Linked DNA regions of Homo sapiens. The protein of the gene in region 6 purifies or fractionates together with the protein of the main gene of each other region. This does not show direct contact. Each region holds a gene or a part of one and is shown on either strand. Other genes may lie near its edges.

Region 1 (3,002 bases), 3.2 Mb from region 6:
CATCTTTTAAAAAATGTGTGTGTAAAATGTACAAATCATTGCTATTTTAATACTTTGCTTTTAGAATTACTAGTCACACAAATATGCCATTCAACTAGTGTATTAATAATACCTCAAGAAAATGCAGTGTTATTTACATTTTATCATTCAAAAATACACCTCTTTAGAATACCAATGAAATAGTTTACTTAATCTCTTTTGGAAAATTGTATCTTATTCTTTCAAGCAATTTAAGGATCTGCTTGACTCATAAAACTGACGATGACCCACAGAATACTTATTATATGTTCATTGTGTACATGTACTTATAAATTGTATTTGAACTTATATATTATTAGAAAAATTTCTTTGAGAAACCCTTTTGTTTGACCTGTTATTAGGGTCCCAAACCAACCTATAAACAAAGATCCCCAGAGGAAGTATTATATTTGAATAGCAACTTGATTCTGTAATGGAGTAGAGACATTTGTCACCACAAAACATGATACAACTTAGAAAAATTACTCTAGAAATTGTGTTTTAATTTCCAGGTTCTAAGCAAGCTGTTTTGTCACTATAATTGTTAAAGTTTAACATATCCATTGTCAAAGGTATGACCAAAATGAATAAAAATATTTAAGCCCAAAAAGTTTAAGGGAACTCTGAGACATAATTGATGTTCAAGTACCATTTTTCAAATGTTAAGGGCTATTGGCATCTGCCAACATTCAAAACAAACATATATATCTTGAGAGTCATCAAAATAAACTTTACTTTTTTGGTACTTCCCTTGTAAGATCCCATTTTAAATGTAAGGACATTGAAATAAAAGCCTTCAATTTAAGATAGTATTGCAATTCCTTTTTAGTCATGTAACTAGATAATTCTTATATATATTCCATGTCTTATGTTGGTTCCTACACATTAATCCTGCAAGCCTTTGACATTAGTGTATTCTGCAAAGTATTCAATGACAATATCACCAGCGTCCACCTCTAGACATACGTACGACTACATTTTGCTTCTAATCTCTCAGGCCCCAGTTACACAGACTATTATAATAAGAAATGAATCAGAGATATCCAATGCCATGACACAGGTTTCAATTAATTGCATGTGCATTATATAAATTGTGGCCAATAGTCAATAGATGGATTAGAAAGCAAAAGCACACACAGTAAATATGCATCTTAAAAAAAATGTATACCAAGGTTGAAACATGCTATCAGGGACAGTGATCTGCGGCCACTCAAGTCCTGAAATGATTTATGATGTAGTCTATTATTTTTCTTAATTGGCCACCAACTCTTCATTGTAGTCTCCTTTCCTAGTTAAATGCTGGACATTAAGGTGATACAACTACACCAGAAGGCTTCAGTACTTACAGTGGAGACAAAAGGACCAGGCCAGTAAACTCAGGCTGACAAGTGACTACCATAGGACAAGCTGAAAAAATCCGGCCCGGCTCTTTTGCACGTGTTTGACACTGGCTGGCTCTGAAATTAAAAATATGACTCTCTGTCCCCACAAAGCTTAAGTGGAAAACTGCTTTTTTAGAAAGAAGAGCTTCAGAAGTCTTTCATACTACTTATATATTTACTCCAAAAGCTAAATTAAGTACACTGTGAGGGGGGAAATTGACCCCAATTTATAGCTGGTTTAAAAAAAAAATAGGCAAATCAAACCATCTGAAAATAGGGTTTGTCATGGAAACAGCAATGCTAATGGGACAGTATCCCAAGTAGCCTTATGGTTTTCCAGACACGTCCTATTTTGCCACCAGTATTAAAAGAAATAAAAGAATACACTGGTTTTCTATATGCATCATCATTTAGAATAAATTGTTTTCTAAGAATAAAGGCTGGTGGTGACTTAAAAATGTCTTCTAAAGCTATTTAACCACAGCATGTAAAACCTTTCTGCATCAAATTTATAGTTACATCATGTTAAGGACACCTCCAATAAGACTGCTTTAAAATATAGTTTTGGATAGCAATTAATGTCAAAAACATGTTTTTCCAGAAATTATCTAATTGAACTACTTAGTGAGGAGATATGTGTGAATTTGGCCTAAGAATACTATTTTTTTGTGTATGTCTATACAATAAACCCTCTATCTACTATATTATGTTAATGTAACAAAGAAAAAGGGAACACAAAATTGCATCTTGCTACTTAAAATCAAATGCTACATTTTTAGTAAGATCTAATTTTTTTGATTTTCCTTAAAATGAATAATGACTTATAAGACAATTGCATTGTAACAAGGAAAGTAACTCTATTGTATCAATGATCTTCATTTTAGTCCCTTGTCATTTTATCACAAAATGTTTTCATGGGAAAATTTAGTAAAGATATTTTTAACCTGTAAAGGTATTTGAGGTTTTCCATCTAGCATTTTCCATTTCTCATAACCATATTTCCATATTATGAAATGTAAGTAAACTTTACATCTCTATTTTATAAAAATTAATGCATATATACTTATGTGTATACTTATCTATATATACACATATATACACCCATGCATAAATTCTGACTAAGAGTAGACCAACTAGATAATTTATCTGGAGAAGGTTCCTTGAACGATTAAAAAAAGGGGTCTTCAGAAGCAAACAACAAAACAGCCTTACAAACCCAATTGCTGTTTAAAATGTTTATGAACACATAGCCAGTTAACCATTTATTGATTGCCTATTTAGGGTTTTGTAATATCCAAGATTATGGAAGAGATAAGACAATACCTCTAAAAAATATGAGAAAGGTGATGATTTAAAAATAAACCTCCATAATATAAAAAGTCATGTAAATTTATTCCCTGAAAGAAAAGAAAGCTTTAATATTAAAATTAGAGTTCTCTTTTAATCCTCTTTGAGTAAAGAAATAATTTGCAAACTTCTATTTTCTACTGTCATGAAAACAGATCTTTTCTTGGGACTTCACAAATGTCAATCACAACAATGCAAACAGAGTAATTCTTTGGAAAGACTGATCTGAGGGTTTAAGGGTAGACTTTTTTCATT
Region 2 (3,500 bases), on a different chromosome or scaffold from region 6:
AGGAGGTGCCAAAGATTGTATCAGTGAGATTTTATTTTCCTTCTCAGGTACTGTTCTTTCTTTTCTTTTTTCAGCTATTTTTTTTAACACATCAGAGAATGTTATCGTTTTGCCTCAACTGTCAAACATAATTCTTCAAAAGTCAACAGAGGAAGAAAAGCCCACTACACTCACTCAGAGTTTTACTCTTCCCATTGTTCTTTCTTCCTTCCTGATGTTCCAGGTCTCCTTTTACCATTTCCTTTCTGATAAGAGAACTTCCTTTGGCCATTCTTTTAGAGCAGTTCTATTATGACAAATTCTCTTAGTTTTCCTTCATCTGTGAATGTCTTATAGAATTATGAGTCGACAGTTGTTTCAACACTTGGAAAATGTACCACCTCCTTCTGGCCTTCATGGTTTCTCCTGAGAAATCTGCTGTCACTCATATTGTTTTTACCCTATAGGTAAGGTGCTGCTTTCCTTTCACTGCTTTCAAGACTTTAATTTTCATAAGTTTGACTATGGTATGTCTTGGCATGAATTTGAGTTTATCCTCTTGGGGTTCACTGAAAATGTAGGTTTATGTCTTTTGCCAAATATGACAAAAATGCAGCCATTACTTCTTCAAACACTTTTTCAACCCCACACTCATCTCCTGTTACTACAATGATGTGAATGTCACATCTTTTGTTATAGTCCCACAGGTCCCAGAAACTCTGTTCATTTTGTTCATTACTTTTTCTTTTAAGTCTGCTCTTTGTCAGGTAATTTCTATTGTTCTACCTTCAAGTTCACTGATTCTTTCTCCTGTCATCTCTATTCTGCTGATGAGCCCATTCAGTGACTTTTTTATTGGCTATTGTATAGTTCTAAAATTTTCATTTGATTCTTCTATCTTCTAGGTTTTTGCTGAAACTTTCCAGTTCTTGCTGAGACTATTTTTCATTTGTTTCATGTGTATCTGTAATTTTATGAAGCATTTTTATGATAGCTGTTTTCAAATCCTTGCCCTATAATTCCACTATCTGAGTCACCTTGCTGTTGAGATCTGCTGATGGCCTTTCCTCACTCAGGTTTAGGTATTCCTGATTCTTGGCATGACAAATGATTTTCAGTTGTGTCTGTTGTGTTGTTCCTTAGGTCCTTAGGTTCCTAGCCAGTCTGTCTTTTTCTCTTCACTTTTCAGGTCTTCTTATGCTTGTATTATAAATAACATCCTTAGCAGGAAAAATAAACACAAGTGTGTCTACTCTATCTTGTCTAAAACTGGAAGAGTTCTCGGGTGTTTTTGGAAAGTACTCTGTTCACCCAACGTTATGAAGAATAAGTCAAGATAATATTACTAATTTGTGTGGTATATTTCCCCCATATCATGAGCTCAGTCTCATCTTCACACTATGCATATTCATTGGAAAGTACTCTGTTCACCCAACATTGTGAAGAATAAGTCTAGATAATATTACTAATTCGTGTGGTACATTTCCCCCATATCACGGGCTCAGTCTCATCTTCACACTACGCATGTTCAGCTGGTAGCAAGGGGACGCTGACTCTGACCCCTTTTCATAGCTCATTTTCTTACCTGGAATGTTCTCCCTTCTTTTTCCCATTTCCTCCTTCAAGAGCCAACTCAAGAACCCCTTCCTTTGGACACCTCTCCACTACCACTGCTCACATAGATCTCTCCCTTCCCTGCCCCTAGATTTTGATTGCCCCATGGTCTGTTTTTCTTGAGGGCAGAGATCATGCCTCACAGGTGCCTAAACGATGGACTAAGTACTGAATGTGAAGGGCACTCTCAAAAATGGATTCGGATACTTTATTGCATGTGAGCAATGGAAAGAACCCAAAAATATATCTAATCCAACACCTAAGTTTGCAGATAAAGAAAATGAGGTTCTTGGCCAGGCACAGTGGCTCATGCCTATAATTCCAACACTTTGAGAGGCTGAGGCAGGCAGATTGTTTCAGCTCTTCAATTCGAGATCAACCCCGGGCAACATGGTGAAACCCCATCTCTACAAAAAATGCACAAATGAGTCAGGTGTGGTGGCACATGCCTGTAGTCCCAGCTTTTTGGGAGGCTGAGGTGGAGGATGGCTTCAGCCTAGGAGGCAGAGGATGCAGTGAGCCAAGAGCATGCCACTGCACTCCAGCATGGGCCACAGAGACTAACCTTGTCTCAGAAAAAAAGAAAATGAGGTTCTTGATTTATAAAACTGGAAAAGGCCAGGCACAGTGGCTCACACCTGTAATCCCAGCACAGATTACTCTGGGCAACAGAGCAAGACTCTGTCCCTCCCCCTCAAAAAAATAAGTTAAATAAAAAATAAAATAAAACTGAAACAGAAGGACCACACAAACCCCAAAGCAACAACAACAAAAAAAAACAGGGTATGTCAGCCCCTATCTCTTACTTAATTAACTCAAAGCTAATTGTTTTATTTACAGATCATTAGAAGCAATGATTATCTTGCCTGGAGAATAATTTTGAGTCTCAGAGAGCGGAAGAAATGTGGTATGATCCTAAGACACAAAGTCTGTTTCTGGGCATCACAGTCAGCTCCTTTCAATCCTTCCTTAGGACTGTTAGATTAGATTAGTTTGTGGAACTAGCCAATCCCTGGAGTCTAACACTAGCAATTTCCCGGTCTTCCAGCCTAGAAGCTATCTGACCTCAAAACTAATTTTCTTTCATGATCTTTCACTATTCATTGCCTTGATTTCCATGGAAACTCTATAATCACAACCAAAAATGTAAAATAAGAGAAGACGACATGAAACTCTGAAGAACCCCACAGACTTTTCAGGGCTCTCAAATGTCACCTCCTTGAAGAGACCTTCCCTGATCGCCCTTGCTACTCCTGCCCCCAACTACCACATTGCCTGGTTTCTTTATTTTTGCCTTTATCAGTATCTGAAATTGCTTAACTTATCTGTTCACATTTTTGGTATTCAGCTCCTCCATTAGAATGTAAGCTCCATGAAAGCAGCGCCTTGGTCAGTCTCGTTCACCACAGTATCCCAAGACTTAGAATGACACCTAGCATACAGTAGGTGCTCAATCACTATTGACCAAATGAAGGAATAAATAAATCAATAAAGAAGCGCATACATTTTTCCAAGTCTGGCTGGTCTAACCCTAATGGCTGTTTACCACCACACTCCAGGATTCTTGGTGGCAACATGTGGATACTCCAGGATTCTTTGGTGGCAACATGTGGATACTGCCAGTGGGCCAAGGTGACATTTCACTCAGTGATTAAAATGATCATGAGGAAGGTGCTCACGGGTACTCACTCTCCACTCCCCCTGATAGGAGTGGCCCTGCCTGCCTGACTTGTTCACTTGGCACTTGCAGGGCCAGGGAGCTTTTAAACTGGGGGTGGGGAGTGAGGTGTGTGAGCAGAGCTCAGCCAAGAGCACAGCTACCACTGACTCAAAGAAACTAAGGGTAGGGGTTGGGGAGAAGCAATATCTGACTGAGAGGAAAACAGAGGGACAACAGGGAAAGAAAG
Region 3 (3,500 bases), on a different chromosome or scaffold from region 6:
CCGTCCCCCACCCCCCGCAGTGATGGGCACCCGCCCATCCCCCCGCAGTGATGGGCACCCGCCCGTCCCCCCGCAGTGATGGGCACCCGCCCGTCCCCCCGCAGTGATGGGCACCCGCCCGTCCCCCCGCAGTGATGGGCACCCGCCCGTCCCCCCGCAGTGATGGGCACCCGCCCGTCCCCTTGCAGTGATCAGTGCCCGCCCATCCCTTTGCAGTGATCAGCGTGTATCCCCCTTTTGCCAGCCGCACAAGCACCAACTTGGTGTCGTCAGGGGACCAAGAGGCCCACTCCTAGAGCCTCTGCCTGTTCCAGATGGCGAATGGGAGACGTGCAGAGACCACCTGACCGACCACACCATGGCGCCGTGGACAGTTACATGTGTCCCTGTGGGAACGGCCGTCTGACGCCAGTCACAGCGAGATAGCCCAGTCACAACCCACCTGTGGACCCAGGCTCAGGTCCGGGCACCATCATTTAAGACAAAAGGAATGATCTGGGCTGACACACCTGAGGGGCGGCTCCAGATAAGGGAGGGACGAGACGTGTGCGCGGCCAGATGCTCAGAGCAGCAGCAGGAGGCTCAGCTTGGGAAGGATGAACTGGGCCCTGAGCTGTGGCCCCAGGGTCTGGGTGGAGCCCAGCACAGACACCTCCAGGGCACGGCAGAGCCCCACAGGGAGGCCTCTGCTGGCCACTGGGCCTGGCCAGGGAGATTGGGAGGCCATCCAAGTGCAAAGCCTGGAGGTGCCTCACACACATGGAGCAGACGGGCCCCACAAGCTCCAGACCCACTGTTCTGGGGCCCCCTGGCCGTGCCTTCTCACCTCCTTGCACCGGCAGTTGAAGGCCTCCTCCACTTTCCTCCTGGTCTCAGGCACGTGGCATTTCTTCAGGAGGGGGAAGTAATGGGGGTACTTGAGGGTGACCTTCAACTTGCCGTCCTCCATCTTCTCCAGGGAGTTCAGAAAGTCCTCGGGGAGCCCTCCTATGGGGACAGAACCAGGGTGGCTTTGACAGGACTGATGGGCCCACAGCCTGCACACAGCGTGTGAGGGAAGGGGTGGGCTTCCCCTCTGCCTGGAAAGCTACAAGGGGGCCCTCAGCGAGCAGCTGCAGCCTGGCCACCACCCGCTGCAATTCTTACATCCCCCATCTAACCCCATCAAGAAATACCCTGGCTCCCCCACAGCCTGGCCACCACCTGCCACGTTTCTCACGTCCCGCCTCTAACCCCACCAGGAAACCCCCCAGCATCCTCAGAGCAGGATCTCCTGCCCCAGAGAGGTTAAAGCTAAATCCAGCCCAACCCCCGGACATCGTGGGCTTCCAGGGCGCCGTCACCAACCTCATGTGTGAAGGGAGGAGGGTGGCGGGAAGGGTGGCCCGGCCACTGCACAAGGAAACCAGCGTTAGAGGCAGTGCCTCCCATCAAAGACAAAAACAGCAGGAGAGCTGAGCACGCTGGGCCCTGGGCGGAGAGGGAGGCCCCACGTGGAGAGGGAGGTCCTGCTTTGCTTTTCCTGAAGAACCACCCCCAGGCAGAGCCTCCCGCTCAGAGCTGAGATCTCAGCACGCAGCCCCACGGCTCAACCACTTTCAAGTGTGTCCCTCCAGAGAGACCCAATTCCTACTCCCAGAGCTTCTCACTGGAGCCCTGCTGTCCCTTCTCCACCCACAAAACCCCTGGCAGGACACAGTTCACCCCGCTGCCCGGCAGCCACACCCTCCCACCTGGCCCCTGCCCGACAGCCTCAAGAGAAGTGGGGGCGGCAGCATCCCGGACTGAAACCCTCTGGGGTTCCTACCTCATGGCTCGGGAGACGCCAGGGCCACCGTGCCTCAGGCTTGCAGCTTCAATGCAAAGACTGGTTCACCTCAACCCCAGGGCGGTCAGAGTGGAAAGAATGATCGGGAGCTCACTCCGACCCCAGGGGAGTCAGGGTGGAAAGAATGATCCGGAGCTCACACGGACCCCAGAGCAGTAGGGGTAGAAAGAACGATCGGGAGCTCACGCCGACCCCAGGGCGGTCAGGGTGGAAAGAATGATTGGGAGCTCACCCCGACCCCAGGGCAGTAGGGGTGGAAAGAATGATCGGGAGCTCACGGGGACCCCAGGGAGGCAAGGGTGGAAAGAATGATCCGGTTGGGGGGCCAGAGGCAGATGGGGGAAATTTTGGGAGGCCAGCCCGTGGGTGTGGGTGGTGATGAGGGAGCTGAGAGTCCTGTGGCCGGCAGAGCCCCCGCCTTCCCGTTTGTACCCCAGCACCAGCGTGGGCCTGGCAATTGTCTGCCGAGTGACTGCAGCATGAGGGGGAGGCCTCCCGGGACCTGCACATCGTCCTTTCCAAGGACCACGGGCCTTCAAACAGCAGCTCTCCATCTCGACAGTGTGTCACCCAGGAGTGACGGCTGGCGGTCGGAGACGGGAGTTAAAGGACAGCAAGGGAGACAGCTGGGGGGCCCAGCAGCGCTGGACTGGAAGAGAAGCTGCAAAGTGGACTCCTGGAAGTTTTTATTTTTTTAGAAAAAGGGTCTTGCTCTGTTGCCCAGGCTGCAATGGATAGTTCACGAATGCATAGTTCACGTTCACTGTGGCCCTGAACTCCCAGACTCAAGCAATCCCCCTGCCTCAGCCTCCCGAGTGGCTGGGACCTCAGGTGTGTGCCGGCATGCCCCGCTGCACTTGTGGATTTGATATACAGACACAGAATAGAAGAGTGTGTGTGTCCATGTGTGGTGCAGAGATGCGTGTCTGCTTCCTAACTGTTAACGGTGCCCAGGAATGCTGCTCCCTGGCAGTGGTGAACACATCCGGTGCCTAAGTCACCCTCCACTCAAAGGCGCCAGGTCTCCTCCAAGAAATGGAGCATCTGAGGGCTGGGGCAGGGAGAGCATGGGACGAGCCTGCGACATCACATGTCCAACAGTAAGAGTGGGCTCAGAGGCCGAGCCTGCGGTACCGCGCGCCCCACAGTAAGCGCGGGCTCAGAGGCCGAGCCTGCGGTACCATGTGCCCCACAGTAAGAGCAGGTTCAGAGGACAGCAGGTGCATTACAAGGACACAGGGATTGTTCGGAGGGACTCCTGAGGGTCCATGTGGGACGATTTGAGCACTGGGATAAATGATAATGAATGATAACCCGGGAATAAGACAGAAGCCTCATGCACACGGACAGAAACAAATCAGTAAGAAGACAGGCAAGGAGGGAAGGTTCGGAGTCACGGCAGGATGACTGATGCCCAGAGGGTGAGGGCGGCAGAAGTCATCCATGGACATGGCAACTAGTGTATGACAATGTGCGAGTGATGGACACTCACAGGTCTCTGCTCTGGTTGGGTGCGTCCCCTCCAAAATGCACCAGGAACTTAATGCCAGAGATGGTGGTGTCGGGAGATGCGGGTATCGGGAGGTGGCGGTGTCGGGAGGTGGGGGTGTCGGAAGGTGTTGGTGTCGGGAGGTGTTGGTGTCGGGAGGTGTGGGTGTCGTGAGGTGTTGGT
Region 4 (2,679 bases), on a different chromosome or scaffold from region 6:
TACATATGTATTATATATGTGCAATATTACAGTTTTTATATTATTTATAGTTATATGTATCATGTATTATGCAAACGTATAATATATAACAAATATATATTAAATTATGTAATCTTGACATATACATCATAATTTAATGTATATAATGTTAATTGTATATGATTTATACTTATAATATATGTTGCATATATTCACTATAATATATAATGTATAATGTATATTACATATAAACATATAATTAAATATAAAATTTTTCTATTATAATTATAATCTATAAATAATAGATAATATATATTTATGTTTGTACCTGTTTATTAATTATAATAACACCTGAAATTTATTGTACTATATATTGTAAATAAATCTTTCATATAATATAATTATAGTGATATGTGGTGATATGTTAACATATTTTTATTATATAATTATGTTCCTTATATATGTAATACATTACGTGAACATATTTAATATAATTGAAATGATAGGTCTGAAATTCTCCATTGCGAATCGTATCTTTTTATTTGTATATGTATGTATAGGCATCTGTGCATTTCTATTGCTCATTCTAATTATTTCTCCCCATTGAAGTTCACAAGACGGGAGGCCATTTCTCCTCATTCATGGTGCATCAAATCCGGAGGCTTCAGTGCCTGGCACAGTCCCTGTGAGGACAAAATACTTCCTCAGTATTAATAGGAGCATCCCTCCTTTGGGGTTTTCTAATCAGCACTGATGTCAGCGCCGTGTGTACCTGAACTCAAGTCTGCCCTAAACGATTCTACCAGGACAGCTCTTCTATTGCCTCTGTTTCACATGAGGAATTTGGGACACAGGAGGTTTGGGTGAGTCACCGTCAGGCATAGAGCCAGGGGGTGGCAGAACCACCGGGATTTGAACCATGAACCCAGCAATCTGGCTGCAGGAGGGTCTGCCCTCGTGACCTTTATATGTCACTGCATGAAGGTGAGAGAAGAGAGAAGGAAGGAGAAGAAGAGAGGGAGAGAAACAGAGGCAAGATATTCCCGCAGACAGAAGGCTAATAAAAACCAGACACTGGACTTGAACCAGGTCTGCGGGACTCAGGAGCATGTCCCGCTGTGCCCCAGCAGCCCAGGAGCCTCTGAGGGGGTCCGGATGGAGCACGGCATCGCTCCTCCCACCTCCCCATGTGGCTTCAGCCCCTGGTCCCACCTGCCTGAGCTCACAGCCCGAGCCTCACAGGCAGTCACCGGGTCTAGGTCCAAGGACGTACTCTGGGGATAGAAACCCAGGTGGGGAAGGGGCCGCGAATGGCTTATGACCCCGTGTCCTCCCCTGGCAGTTTCTGGTCACAGATCACAGGCGGAGATGGACAACTTGAGACCCAGGGACTTGGGGCAGCTTCACTCCCATCACACAGAGTCCAGGGGCAGAGCCAGAGGCAGCTTCTCTCCCATCACAGAGTCCAGGGCAGAGCCAGATGGAAGGGAAGCCTCATGGCTTCATCCTGGTCACCGTTCACAGCTACGTCCCCTCCCTGTGGAGCCCTCCTCCTCTTAAGGGACCTTACTCCACCGTTCAGGCCTCCCCCGGAGATCACAGAGCCAACAGGAGCAGCCCCGTCCCTCTCCGGGTGTCCCAGGTTGGAAGGTGAGTTCTAAGTCCCTCCATCAGGTGCAGAGCGGGGTGAATGGTGAGGCCACGCCCACAAGGGGGCAGCGTGGAGCTCGGGAGAGCCCGGAAGTCTGGGGTGGGGCTGCCCGGGTGGGTGGCCCCTGCCCCTTCATGGCCTTGTGCCGTTAAGCACGAAACTTTAATTTATGTTTTGCATATTAGAGAGGAGGAGGAGTTAGAGGATCAGACTAGTACCTCCCCCATTAAGTGGTGCTTGCATTAAGTGCTTTCCACAGTTCCTGGCATGGAACAAGGTTGCAATCACTGTACCATTGCTGCTATGGTCTCTGTGAGCATTAGCGACCTCCCAGAGCTTGGTGGGTGTCGGTGCCTTCCCGTGGCCTCCCTAGACCTTGACTCCAAGCCCAGGGCAGAGGGCTGGACCCGGAACAGCATCCGCAGCACAGATTCCCCTGTAATCCCCTCCAGCTGAGGGCCCTGCTACTGACCAGCTGAGGAGCCGGGCTCTGTGTCCGGGGAGTCCGGGCCTCCAGAGCTTTCTGTAAACAGGGGCAGGAGAAGGATTTAGAACCCGTCCCAACCAACCTGCCCTCCTCCACCCTGAGCCCCCATCCAAAGGCCGCATGACCATCACGCAATCCCAGACAATGTCTCGAGACTCCTGAGAAAACGGGGCAGGGGACAGGAGGCTGGGGAGAGCCCCGCTGCTTGCCCCATTCTCCCTGGGGCTGGTCACTCCCTCTGCTCCTCCCACCACAAGCTCTTCTTGACCTCAGGGGACTGCTGAGGTCCTGGGGGGACATGAAGATGGGTTGGATCCTCTCCAGTGGACTTTGACTCCAGGACATCTCGGGCTGAGCACACACAGGAGTGCATGTGGTCACATACCAAAGGTTTTCCCAAAGCACTGTCCCGCCCTGGTCAGGGGCCATCCCTGGACCCTGTGTTCTGCCCAGTGGGAGATGAACCACACCAGGAGAAGCACATTGCCTGGGGCAGGTTCTGGCTCAGTGGAAAGGAATAACAAATGGGACCATCAATCCTGTGTGAAAAGACACTCATCCC
Region 5 (3,500 bases), on a different chromosome or scaffold from region 6:
CTACTTGAATTAAAAAAAAATTTCTTTTGGCAGGTCAGCTTTCTCAAATACAAAAGCAATGACTCTGTTTTCCTTACATTCACTTGTATTTGCTTAATGGGCTTTAAAGGTGTGAATGAATCCAAGTCTTATTAATTTGGGGGCCTTTAATTCTTGATCAGCTCTATATTTCTATATTCTTTTTTTTTTTTTTTTTTTGGCGACAGAGTGTTTAACTCTTGTTGCCCAGGCTGGAGTGATCTCAGCTCACCGCAGTCTCCTTCTCCTGCCTCAGCCTGCCAAGTAGCTGGGATTACTGGCGCCTGCCACCACACCCGACTAATTTTTGTATTTTTAGTAGAGATGGGGTTTCACCATGTTGGCTAGGCTGGTCTTGAACTCCTGACCTCAGGTGATCTGCCTGCCTTGGCCTCCTACAGTGCTGGGATTATAGGTGTGAACCACCATGCCTGGCCTATATTCTATATTCTATATATTCTATATTCTTTTGTCTTTTTTGTTTCTGTAAGTATGTGGGCCCAGTAATATAAAACTTCTTTATGTAAATGGCACAGGTTCAAACTGAAGAGAATTGGCAGTAGTTTTAAGGATAGTAGAATGGAAGGGGTTTTTGATAGCACTTTGATACAGAGTACTATTGTAGCTAAGCAAAATTTAAGCGGTTATTAAAACCAATTCCTTTGATTTTTCCATAAAATGTAGCTGTATAAAAGAAGGTATTTACAATACTCTTTATTAAATTTTGTCCCTTCATTAAATTAAGATATAGAATTTTTTTTTTTTTTTTTTTGAGATCGAGTCTCACTCTGTCTCCCAGGCTGGAGTGCAGTGGCACGATCTCGCCTCACTGCAAGCTCCGCCTCCCAGGTTCACGCCATTCTCCTGCCCCAGCCTCCCGAGTAGCTGGGACTACAGGTTTGCACCACCATGCCTGGCTAATTTTTTGTATTTTTAGTAGAGATGGGGTTTCACTGTGTTAGCCAGGATGCTCTTGATCTCCTGATCTCATGATCCGCTTGCCTGGGCCTCGCAAAGTGCTAGGATTACAGGCGTGAGCCACCGCACCCAGCCACAGATATTGTTTTTAAGATAAGATACTATTTATTCCTGTGCTATTTGAGATCTTTTGTAGTGGCTTCAGAGCCATTAGGACTGTTCAGATGGAAATCTGTAGCACACACTCTTAAGATTTTTTACTTGTTTTCCATGTAATACATGTAGAATAGGAAGTTTTGCAAGCAGAGAAGTATTGTACTTCTAATAAGATGTTTTGCCTTACAGAATTCAATTCGTCATAATCTGTCCCTACACAGCAAGTTCATTCGTGTGCAGAATGAAGGAACTGGAAAAAGTTCTTGGTGGATGCTCAATCCAGAGGGTGGCAAGAGCGGGAAATCTCCTAGGAGAAGAGCTGCATCCATGGACAACAACAGTAAATTTGCTAAGAGCCGAAGCCGAGCTGCCAAGAAGAAAGCATCTCTCCAGTCTGGCCAGGAGGGTGCTGGGGACAGCCCTGGATCACAGTTTTCCAAATGGCCTGCAAGCCCTGGCTCTCACAGCAATGATGACTTTGATAACTGGAGTACATTTCGCCCTCGAACTAGCTCAAATGCTAGTACTATTAGTGGGAGACTCTCACCCATTATGACCGAACAGGATGATCTTGGAGAAGGGGATGTGCATTCTATGGTGTACCCGCCATCTGCCGCAAAGATGGCCTCTACTTTACCCAGTCTGTCTGAGATAAGCAATCCCGAAAACATGGAAAATCTTTTGGATAATCTCAACCTTCTCTCATCACCAACATCATTAACTGTTTCGACCCAGTCCTCACCTGGCACCATGATGCAGCAGACGCCGTGCTACTCGTTTGCGCCACCAAACACCAGTTTGAATTCACCCAGCCCAAACTACCAAAAATATACATATGGCCAATCCAGCATGAGCCCTTTGCCCCAGATGCCTATACAAACACTTCAGGACAATAAGTCGAGTTATGGAGGTATGAGTCAGTATAACTGTGCGCCTGGACTCTTGAAGGAGTTGCTGACTTCTGACTCTCCTCCCCATAATGACATTATGACACCAGTTGATCCTGGGGTAGCCCAGCCCAACAGCCGGGTTCTGGGCCAGAACGTCATGATGGGCCCTAATTCGGTCATGTCAACCTATGGCAGCCAGGCATCTCATAACAAAATGATGAATCCCAGCTCCCATACCCACCCTGGACATGCTCAGCAGACATCTGCAGTTAACGGGCGTCCCCTGCCCCACACGGTAAGCACCATGCCCCACACCTCGGGTATGAACCGCCTGACCCAAGTGAAGACACCTGTACAAGTGCCTCTGCCCCACCCCATGCAGATGAGTGCCCTGGGGGGCTACTCCTCCGTGAGCAGCTGCAATGGCTATGGCAGAATGGGCCTTCTCCACCAGGAGAAGCTCCCAAGTGACTTGGATGGCATGTTCATTGAGCGCTTAGACTGTGACATGGAATCCATCATTCGGAATGACCTCATGGATGGAGATACATTGGATTTTAACTTTGACAATGTGTTGCCCAACCAAAGCTTCCCACACAGTGTCAAGACAACGACACATAGCTGGGTGTCAGGCTGAGGGTTAGTGAGCAGGTAAGTTCACCCCAATATCAAAAGACCTTTTGAAAAATAGAACTTAAAAGCGAGGAACACAGTAACTTGCCATGGTTAGCACATCTTTGATGTCAACTGACTGTCCCTTGCAGAGAGGGATCTTTTATCATTCATTCTCTGTCCTTTTTGCAGCTTACAGTTTTCCTTCTGAGCTTACACAGAAGGAAGCTTCCTTTAACTGCTTTAAAGATTTCTTTTTGACAGTTCGATGGCTGCATCTTTTTAGTAGCTCTTCAATAAATGAATACATTTGATATAAATCAAATGCTGAAGGGTTTTTTGTAAAGTAGAATTTTCCCCATTGAATGATTTTAGAGCTGTTTGAGAAAGCTCTAGCTTTTTGCCCCTAAGTATGTCTGTCACTCTTAACATGTTAAGTTGAATTGATTTTAATTTGGCTATATTTTCATTGTGTGTGTATGTGTGTGTGCGTATGTATGTGTTTTTTCCTAGGTTACACTTAAAAGTACTTCAGATTGTCTGACAGCAGGAACTGAGAGAAGCAGTCCAAAGATGTCTTTCACCAACTCCCTTTTAGTTTTCTTGGTTAAAAAAAAAAACAAAAAAAAAAACCCTCCTTTTTTCCTTTCGTCAGACTTGGCAGCAAAGACATTTTTCCTGTACAGGATGTTTGCCCAATGTGTGCAGGTTATGTGCTGCTGTAGATAAGGACTGTGCCATTGGAAATTTCATTACAATGAAGTGCCAAACTCACTACACCATATAATTGCAGAAAAGATTTTCAGATCCTGGTGTGCTTTCAAGTTTTGTATATAAGCAGTAGATACAGATTGTATTTGTGTGTGTTTTTGGTTTTTCTAAATATCCAATTGGTCCAAGGAAAGT
Region 6 (3,500 bases):
CTCCTATGCTTTAGGAAGCCGGGACCTCTAACAAGATTCTATAGTTATTCAAACCTACTCCCTAGAAATTTATCACCCAAAGAGCAGCCCCAAAGATTAGCTGTTAATGCCATGAAGATGCCAAAGATAATCCCATGACAGTCTAATTACCTTATCTCGTATGTCAGCCTCATGGGTCTTCTAGGCCACAGTCGGCCTGGATTCCTTTATTCACCTCTCCTTCAGAGCTGAAAACTGACTGTAGCACATCTGTAATAGTCTTTCTTTTGAATCACGTAGTTCTAACAGTTTCAAACAAGGCTACTCATTTGCTGCTCTCCAGGGAATTTTACAATAGCGGAAAGTTCAGATCTCCCAAATTTCTGACCTGCTATTGACTTACACATTTCCATAACCTTTATTACTGGAGTACCCTCCTTCTGAGAGTGGCTTCTAATAGTCTTGTTAATTAGAACCAAAATACATCAGAGGCCTTCTAGATATCCAACCAGAGTGCAGTGAAAGTGTTCAGTCACTGTATAAGCACAGAAAAAAAGAATGACAAGGTTCACTTTTGATGATACGGGGTGTTATTAATAAGACATGTTTCCTTTTTGGTACTAGGGTGCTCCTGGTGCTGTAGGTGCCCCTGGTCCTGCTGGAGCCACAGGTGACCGGGTAAGCATGCATTTTCACTAAGCCAACAGCAATATCTAAAATTTCCCGCCTTCCCTAGTCCCAAAGAGCCCCAGCAATTCATTTTTATGGCTTGGTATAAAGCCTACTTATTTAAAAACCTAGCTATTGTGATAGAGCAGCAGGAAACAAATGCTGTGTGTTTAAAATTACTTTTCCCTTCCTATAGATTTGCCAGCTATCTGATCTATACTCTAATCCCTAGCATTTGTTTTAAAGTCTCTCCATGTTGCGCATTAACAATATCCTAATGCACTGAGGCTTCTCAAAGCCTTCAATTATTACCAAAAAATCAATAAAATACATAGTGTGCCCATTTCACATTGAACTCTCCACTTAAAATAGATCTTATTTATTGTATTGCAAAGATTGCCACAAATAGATCAGCCCCGTGTCCATCTAAAAATTAAAATGTCCTCCTCCTGGTATTGTAGGCACTGATTTATAGTGTTTTCTCAAGTGTATAACCCATACTACTTAACCCCCAAAATGAATATAGCATTAAGTAAAAATCCACTTCATTTTACTCTGTGAGATGTGCGTCAGTTATCTCTTCCAAGGCAACTACAGACTCTGTCTGTCCACCACTGTTCTCTCTCCCTCCCAGTTCTTTGAGCATCTATGTCAGGCACATTAACAGATTCATCTTTGGTCCCATTATAGGGCGAAGCTGGGGCTGCTGGTCCTGCTGGTCCTGCTGGTCCTCGGGGAAGCCCTGTAAGTAAGAACCTGGGTCATTTTGTATACTCACACCTCACAATGTTTAGACATTGATGAACCTAGGATTGATAACACATTTTTAAATCCCTTCTCCCACCTAGGGTGAACGTGGTGAGGTCGGTCCTGCTGGCCCCAATGGATTTGCTGGTCCTGCTGTGAGTATCACATAATGAAGATTAATCTGAAAACATCCTAAGTTGGGGAGTAGAGTGGGTCGGAATACCAGAGCTGTAACTGTTTATTTCCAACAGGGTGCTGCTGGTCAACCTGGTGCTAAAGGAGAAAGAGGAGCCAAAGGGCCTAAGGGTGAAAACGGTGTTGTTGGTCCCACAGGCCCCGTTGGAGCTGCTGGCCCAGCTGTAAGTTGAATTCACTGGTGGTCCACACAGCAGCTACCCATTAGATCTTCCAATTAAATATATATCCGTCAAGTGCCTGCTATGCAACAGGGAATATACCAGATAGAAGATGGAAAATAACGGAAGGATTAACATTTGCACACTGCTTTACAAAGTATAAAAGTTTCATGAATATTGTTTTATTTTAATTCTCTGATAACCTCATAAGGGTGGTAATATTGAAGAACATTCTGACACAGATAGTCATTTTTTATTTCTATATTTTCTTCTAAGAGATGCGGGAATGATCCACTTGAAGAAAAGAGTAGCATTTACAAGGGTTTGTTTGTGATTTGACTCCATCTTTTTGTTTGCATTTAGGGTCCAAATGGTCCCCCCGGTCCTGCTGGAAGTCGTGGTGATGGAGGCCCCCCTGTGAGTATTTACAATGGACTCTCGCCGCTTTTCTTTTTTCAGAATCTATTAAGGACACTTGAAAGTTTTGAAATTTTTGGTAAATTTGGACTACCATGAGGAAACTTTTGAGATTCAAGTTCATTCTATTCAGAGCAATTCCGATATTGATGTTAACTTGAACTCAGCTGGAACTCAGTGTATGTTGCTATCAGCTCACTTGAGGTAATAACCAAGGTGGGCCCTAGGCAGTTTAATTGTAAAGTCGGAAAAAATATTCCTTTTGGCGTTTATTAATATGCCCCTTCTTCTGCCTGACCATGTCCTTCTCCTTTGCAGGCAATGCTATCACAACAATTCTCTAGAGACCCAGAGCTCCCCAAAAATGAACTTTACTGACTTCTTCTCTCACTGGACAGTGCTGAATTATCTAGGTCATTTGTTATTCTTTTGTCCATGAACACCATTACCTATTAAGTGTCCATTTCCTTACCACTCAGCCAGGTGGTAAAGATAGTTATTAATGTATACACATTAATGTGTAATAATGACATAGTGTCTTATCTTCATACCTTTACAACCATAAGATAATATGTCAGCATTTCAGAAAGGACCATCCAAACCTTAACGCAAAATATGGGCATTGCAACTGGTAATATGCTGGTAAGGAAGATGTGTGGAGAAGGAGGGCCTTCAGGGTCCTGGCTAAATAATGCCCTATATGAAGCTGCCTACCTCCTACTCCTTGGTCTATTCCTGGTCACATGTACTGATTTTCCAAAACAAAGAAATTCCCATCTTACCCAAATTCTTGGAGTTGATGTTGACTGTGGAATTCTAATGTGCTTGGCTCTTAGGGTATGACTGGTTTCCCTGGTGCTGCTGGACGGACTGGTCCCCCAGGACCCTCTGTAAGTAAATCACTGTAAACGTGTCTTCATTTACTCTAGCCAAAAGGCCTGGCTTCTGATAGGAAACTGGTAAGAAACTCTTCATGAAAACACATCACTAATATTCGCTATTACTCTCCTGGTCTGAAGTCAGCTTTTCTGAACCATTAAGGTATTTCATCACAAGTTATATTTTATAATATCAGTTTAAGAGGCTTTTATTCATGTGAACACCAGTCCCCTTTCAGGGGCATGGTCTTTTTGAAAAAAAAAAAACAAAAAAACGAACAGTTTTAGCCACATATCAGATATTTCTATATCTAATTATCCTTTATGGCTAACATTCTGCCTCCATTGTTAAGGTATAATTGTTCCTGAATTTAAAGGTGGTTTGGCCTCTAATTTAATTCTGATTCAGACTCTCCTGTCAGGACTCAAGAAAATTTAATTAATTACCAAGGAT
Region 7 (3,500 bases), on a different chromosome or scaffold from region 6:
TGGCCTGGTACTGATGTACCCATTCACGATACCATCTCTTCCTATTTTATGAATTACAACTCCTCAGTGTCATTTGAGGAAAGACTAAATAATATTACTATGTGGCTAAACAATTCGAACCCACCAGTCACCTTTGCAACACTATATTGGGAAGAACCAGATGCAAGTGGCCACAAATACGGACCTGAAGATAAAGAAAACATGAGCAGAGTGTTGAAAAAAATAGATGATCTTATCGGTGACTTAGTCCAAAGACTCAAGATGTTAGGGCTATGGGAAAATCTTAATGTGATCATTACAAGTGATCATGGGATGACCCAGTGTTCTCAGGACAGACTGATAAACCTGGATTCCTGCATCGATCATTCATACTACACTCTTATAGATTTGAGCCCAGTTGCTGCAATACTTCCCAAAATAAGTAAGTAAACATTCAACTGAGGGATACTATTATTCGAATGGGGCAATTGATTGAGGGGGGTGGGTTGTATAAAAGAATGAAGCTCTAGCTTTTTGTAGTTTAGAACCATATACTCAGAGTGGGATTATATGTTTTTTTCCTCTTGTTTACAAGTTGAGAGCAGTTGGCCTATGGTTTAGTTATATGGCTTATGGTTTAGTTTCAAAGTGAGTATTTCTTTGCTTTTGATATATCTAATTATTTGCACTAGAAAAAGGAAATTTTTATCCTTAAACATCTTAGATTTTAGTGTGTGATATTTAGTGGTGAGGTACTTTCTTCTACTGATCATAGAAGTAGTAGTTAGTAGTAACATGTAATTAGTTTATGTTTACTTAGGAAGATACACCTGAAAAATGTCCCCTATCTGTAAAAGTCCACCATGGTAATCCACAAAGTGAAACAGATTTGTTAATGTTTGAGAAAGGTGTGTGTTTGTGTGTATCAGTCCCCAACACTCTCACATTATTATTGCTCTGTTTTTTTAAGAAGTGATTTAATAGATGACATTATCTATAATTTACTTCCAATTATTCTAGTTAGACATATTTTTTCCTTATCAATCATAACTTGTTTCCTTTGCTGTTTCTTTTTTTTTCTCAGATAGAACAGAGGTTTATAACAAACTGAAAAACTGTAGCCCTCATATGAATGTTTATCTCAAAGAAGACATTCCTAACAGATTTTATTACCAACATAATGATCGAATTCAGCCCATTATTTTGGTTGCCGATGAAGGCTGGACAATTGTGCTAAATGAATCATCACAAAAATGTAAGTATTTAGTTGAGATATTTCTGTTGTATCCTAGGAACAAATCATACCTTGTGATACTGTTGTGTTAAGAGGGTACTTCGATTTAAAGAAGTTCACACAGAATAATTAGTTCAATTTTCAACCAGATAATTCCCAGGTCTTCATTTAATAGCAATTTACAGTAATCACAATTTCACCTTTAAATTAGAAAGTAAATTTAAGAGTGAAGGCAAAGTCCTACTTTCTTTCCAAAACTGCAATTACTGTCAGTAATTTTCAAGATTCATTCTCTTGATTTATACAAAATAGAGAAGTAAAGAAACAGTAAAAGGGGAGAGATTAGCTAATCCTTGTTCTTTTGTGTGTTAAAAAAAATTTGTCTGAGTAACCCTAAGTCTTCCCCAGTAACAAAATCATTTACCTGAATGCTACAGCTATTTAGAACACTGGGCAAGAACCAGAAAGTAACCAAACAAATCCACCAAGTGAACAAAATAGATACATCAAAATCTCTCCTAAAAAATATATAGGGGAGAAAATGTATAGGGGTGAGTTACAGGCTTGCCTCAAACTGAAGCTTATTTATCCATATTTCATATTCAATTCAAATGCTTTTTTTAAAATCTAATTTTGTGGTCTATGGTAGGGGTCAGCAAACTTTTTTAGTAAAGGGCCAAATAGAAAATAGTTTAGGCTTTGTGGGCCAGCTGGTCTCTGTCTCAGCTACTCTACTCTGCCTTTATTGTGTAAAAGTAGCCATAGACAACCTGTAAAGAAATTGAAGTGGTGTGCTTCGGTGAAACTCTGTTTACAAAAAGGATGGAGGGCTAACCTTCGCTATGGGCTGTAGTTTACAGTTCCCTGATATATAGCAATTTAGAAGTATCAGGCAAGCATAGGACAGACTCAGAATCAATGAAGTTTGTATATTATTTACATCAATGTTATGTTGCATATTTGTTGTTGACAACCGAAAGTATAGAAAAGCATAGGAAAGAGAACAAAAACTATCCATAATCCCTCAGTATGGATTTATAGGCAAATGTTAATTGTGGACATTTCTCCCCATCCAATCTTTTTTCATATATATATTCTTTTCTAATATATATCTATATTATATATATTATATGTAATATAATTATATGTAATATATATAATATATATAATGTATATTATATATTATATATAATATATAATTACATATAATTATAATATATATTTTCTACATATATATGTAGAATATATTATATATTATATATAGAAAAATATATATTTTTTTCTAATATATGTGTGTGTGTTTTAATATTATTGAAATCTTTATATATTCTGCTTTTTGTCATATTGGTTATTTTTATGATGAAATATTTCAAACATACCACCAAAGAATAATATAACAAATATCAGTATACTCATCACCCAGTCACCCGTACTTAATATGAAAGTGGGAGCTTATTAAATACAACGGGTGTACGTTAAATGGCAACATTTGTTAAAATAAAGCTAAAAATTGGGAATTTATTATTGGAGTTGTATTAGGGACTATCATATGCTTTTCTTTAAGTCTAACTTTTACTGGGATAGAGTCACCAGATTAGACAACACATTCAACGCAAGATCCCTCCTGTAACAATTGAGATAGGTTAGGCTGCAGATTTTCTTTTTCTCCATTTGTTGGCCTTACTCACTTCTGTTCTTCCCAGTTACACAGAACCCTCAGCCTGACCACTGTCTTTATAACTGGTACTGCTTGCAGTGAGCTTTTGCAAACAGTGCTGAGATTGACAAGTGAAGTAATTGGTACTCGGGCTGAAAGATAAGTACATCAGGTTGACAAGTGGTGGTAAAGTCTGAGGGTATGACCAGTTGGGAAAAGGGGCATATGTGTGTGTTTGTGTGTGTATGTGAGAGAGAGAGAGAGAGAGGGAAATATGGAACATAGCTGAGTTGAAGAAATAGAAATTTTTATTTCTAGTCCCTTTCTGAAAGAATTGAATGTTTATATACTAGAAGCAAGTTATTTTGTCCTAAAAAGTCTGATCTTATTGACTGATGTTGTTTTGTTCTTTTTCAGTAGGTGACCATGGTTATGATAATTCTTTGCCTAGTATGCATCCATTTCTAGCTGCCCACGGACCTGCATTTCACAAAGGCTACAAGCATAGCACAATTAACATTGTGGATATTTATCCAATGATGTGCCACATCCTGGGATTAAAACCACATCCCAATAATGGGACCTTTGGTCATACTAAGTGCTTGTTAGTTGACCAGTGGTGCATTAATC

Evidence for each region.
Region 1: the proteins of COL1A2 (region 6) and FZD1 fractionate together in Homo sapiens (co-fractionation; one large-scale study listed by BioGRID). This does not show direct contact.
Region 2: the proteins of COL1A2 (region 6) and NTPCR purify together in Homo sapiens (affinity purification with mass spectrometry, with the first as the bait; one large-scale study listed by BioGRID). This does not show direct contact.
Region 3: the proteins of COL1A2 (region 6) and THOP1 fractionate together in Homo sapiens (co-fractionation; one large-scale study listed by BioGRID). This does not show direct contact.
Region 4: the proteins of COL1A2 (region 6) and LAIR2 purify together in Homo sapiens (co-immunoprecipitation; one large-scale study listed by IntAct). This does not show direct contact.
Region 5: the proteins of COL1A2 (region 6) and FOXO1 purify together in Homo sapiens (affinity purification with mass spectrometry, with the first as the bait; one large-scale study listed by BioGRID). This does not show direct contact.
Region 7: the proteins of COL1A2 (region 6) and ENPP4 fractionate together in Homo sapiens (co-fractionation; one large-scale study listed by BioGRID). This does not show direct contact.

What each region holds. Positions count from the first base shown.
Region 1 is NC_000007.14:91,268,825-91,271,826, reverse strand, and holds the end of FZD1 (frizzled-1), read right to left. Parts: 3' UTR 501-3,002; downstream 1-500. UniProt on the Homo sapiens protein: Receptor for Wnt proteins. Activated by WNT3A, WNT3, WNT1 and to a lesser extent WNT2, but apparently not by WNT4, WNT5A, WNT5B, WNT6, WNT7A or WNT7B. Contradictory results showing activation by WNT7B have been described for mouse.
Region 2 is NC_000001.11:232,971,111-232,974,610, reverse strand, and holds part of NTPCR (cancer-related nucleoside-triphosphatase), read right to left. Parts: intron 1-3,500. UniProt on the Homo sapiens protein: Has nucleotide phosphatase activity towards ATP, GTP, CTP, TTP and UTP. Hydrolyzes nucleoside diphosphates with lower efficiency.
Region 3 is NC_000019.10:2,802,503-2,806,002, reverse strand, and holds part of THOP1 (thimet oligopeptidase), read right to left. Parts: exon of another isoform or gene 1,808-3,500; intron 1,393-1,807; exon of another isoform or gene 1,348-1,392; intron 988-1,347; coding exon 827-987; intron 1-826. UniProt on the Homo sapiens protein: Involved in the metabolism of neuropeptides under 20 amino acid residues long. Involved in cytoplasmic peptide degradation. Able to degrade the amyloid-beta precursor protein and generate amyloidogenic fragments.
Region 4 is NC_000019.10:54,508,509-54,511,187, reverse strand, and holds the end of LAIR2 (leukocyte-associated immunoglobulin-like receptor 2 isoform a precursor), read right to left. Parts: intron 2,154-2,679; coding exon 2,103-2,153; intron 663-2,102; coding exon 619-662; 3' UTR 501-618; downstream 1-500.
Region 5 is NC_000013.11:40,558,642-40,562,141, reverse strand, and holds part of FOXO1 (forkhead box protein O1), read left to right. Parts: intron 1-1,281; coding exon 1,282-2,619; 3' UTR 2,620-2,633; intron 2,634-3,107; 3' UTR 3,108-3,500. UniProt on the Homo sapiens protein: Transcription factor that is the main target of insulin signaling and regulates metabolic homeostasis in response to oxidative stress.
Region 6 is NC_000007.14:94,418,895-94,422,394, forward strand, and holds part of COL1A2 (collagen alpha-2(I) chain precursor), read left to right. Parts: intron 1-603; coding exon 604-657; intron 658-1,338; coding exon 1,339-1,392; intron 1,393-1,496; coding exon 1,497-1,550; intron 1,551-1,646; coding exon 1,647-1,754; intron 1,755-2,114; coding exon 2,115-2,168; intron 2,169-3,004; coding exon 3,005-3,058; intron 3,059-3,500. UniProt on the Homo sapiens protein: Type I collagen is a member of group I collagen (fibrillar forming collagen).
Region 7 is NC_000006.12:46,139,989-46,143,488, forward strand, and holds part of ENPP4 (bis(5'-adenosyl)-triphosphatase ENPP4 precursor), read left to right. Parts: coding exon 1-421; intron 422-1,063; coding exon 1,064-1,234; intron 1,235-3,287; coding exon 3,288-3,500. UniProt on the Homo sapiens protein: Hydrolyzes extracellular Ap3A into AMP and ADP, and Ap4A into AMP and ATP. Ap3A and Ap4A are diadenosine polyphosphates thought to induce proliferation of vascular smooth muscle cells.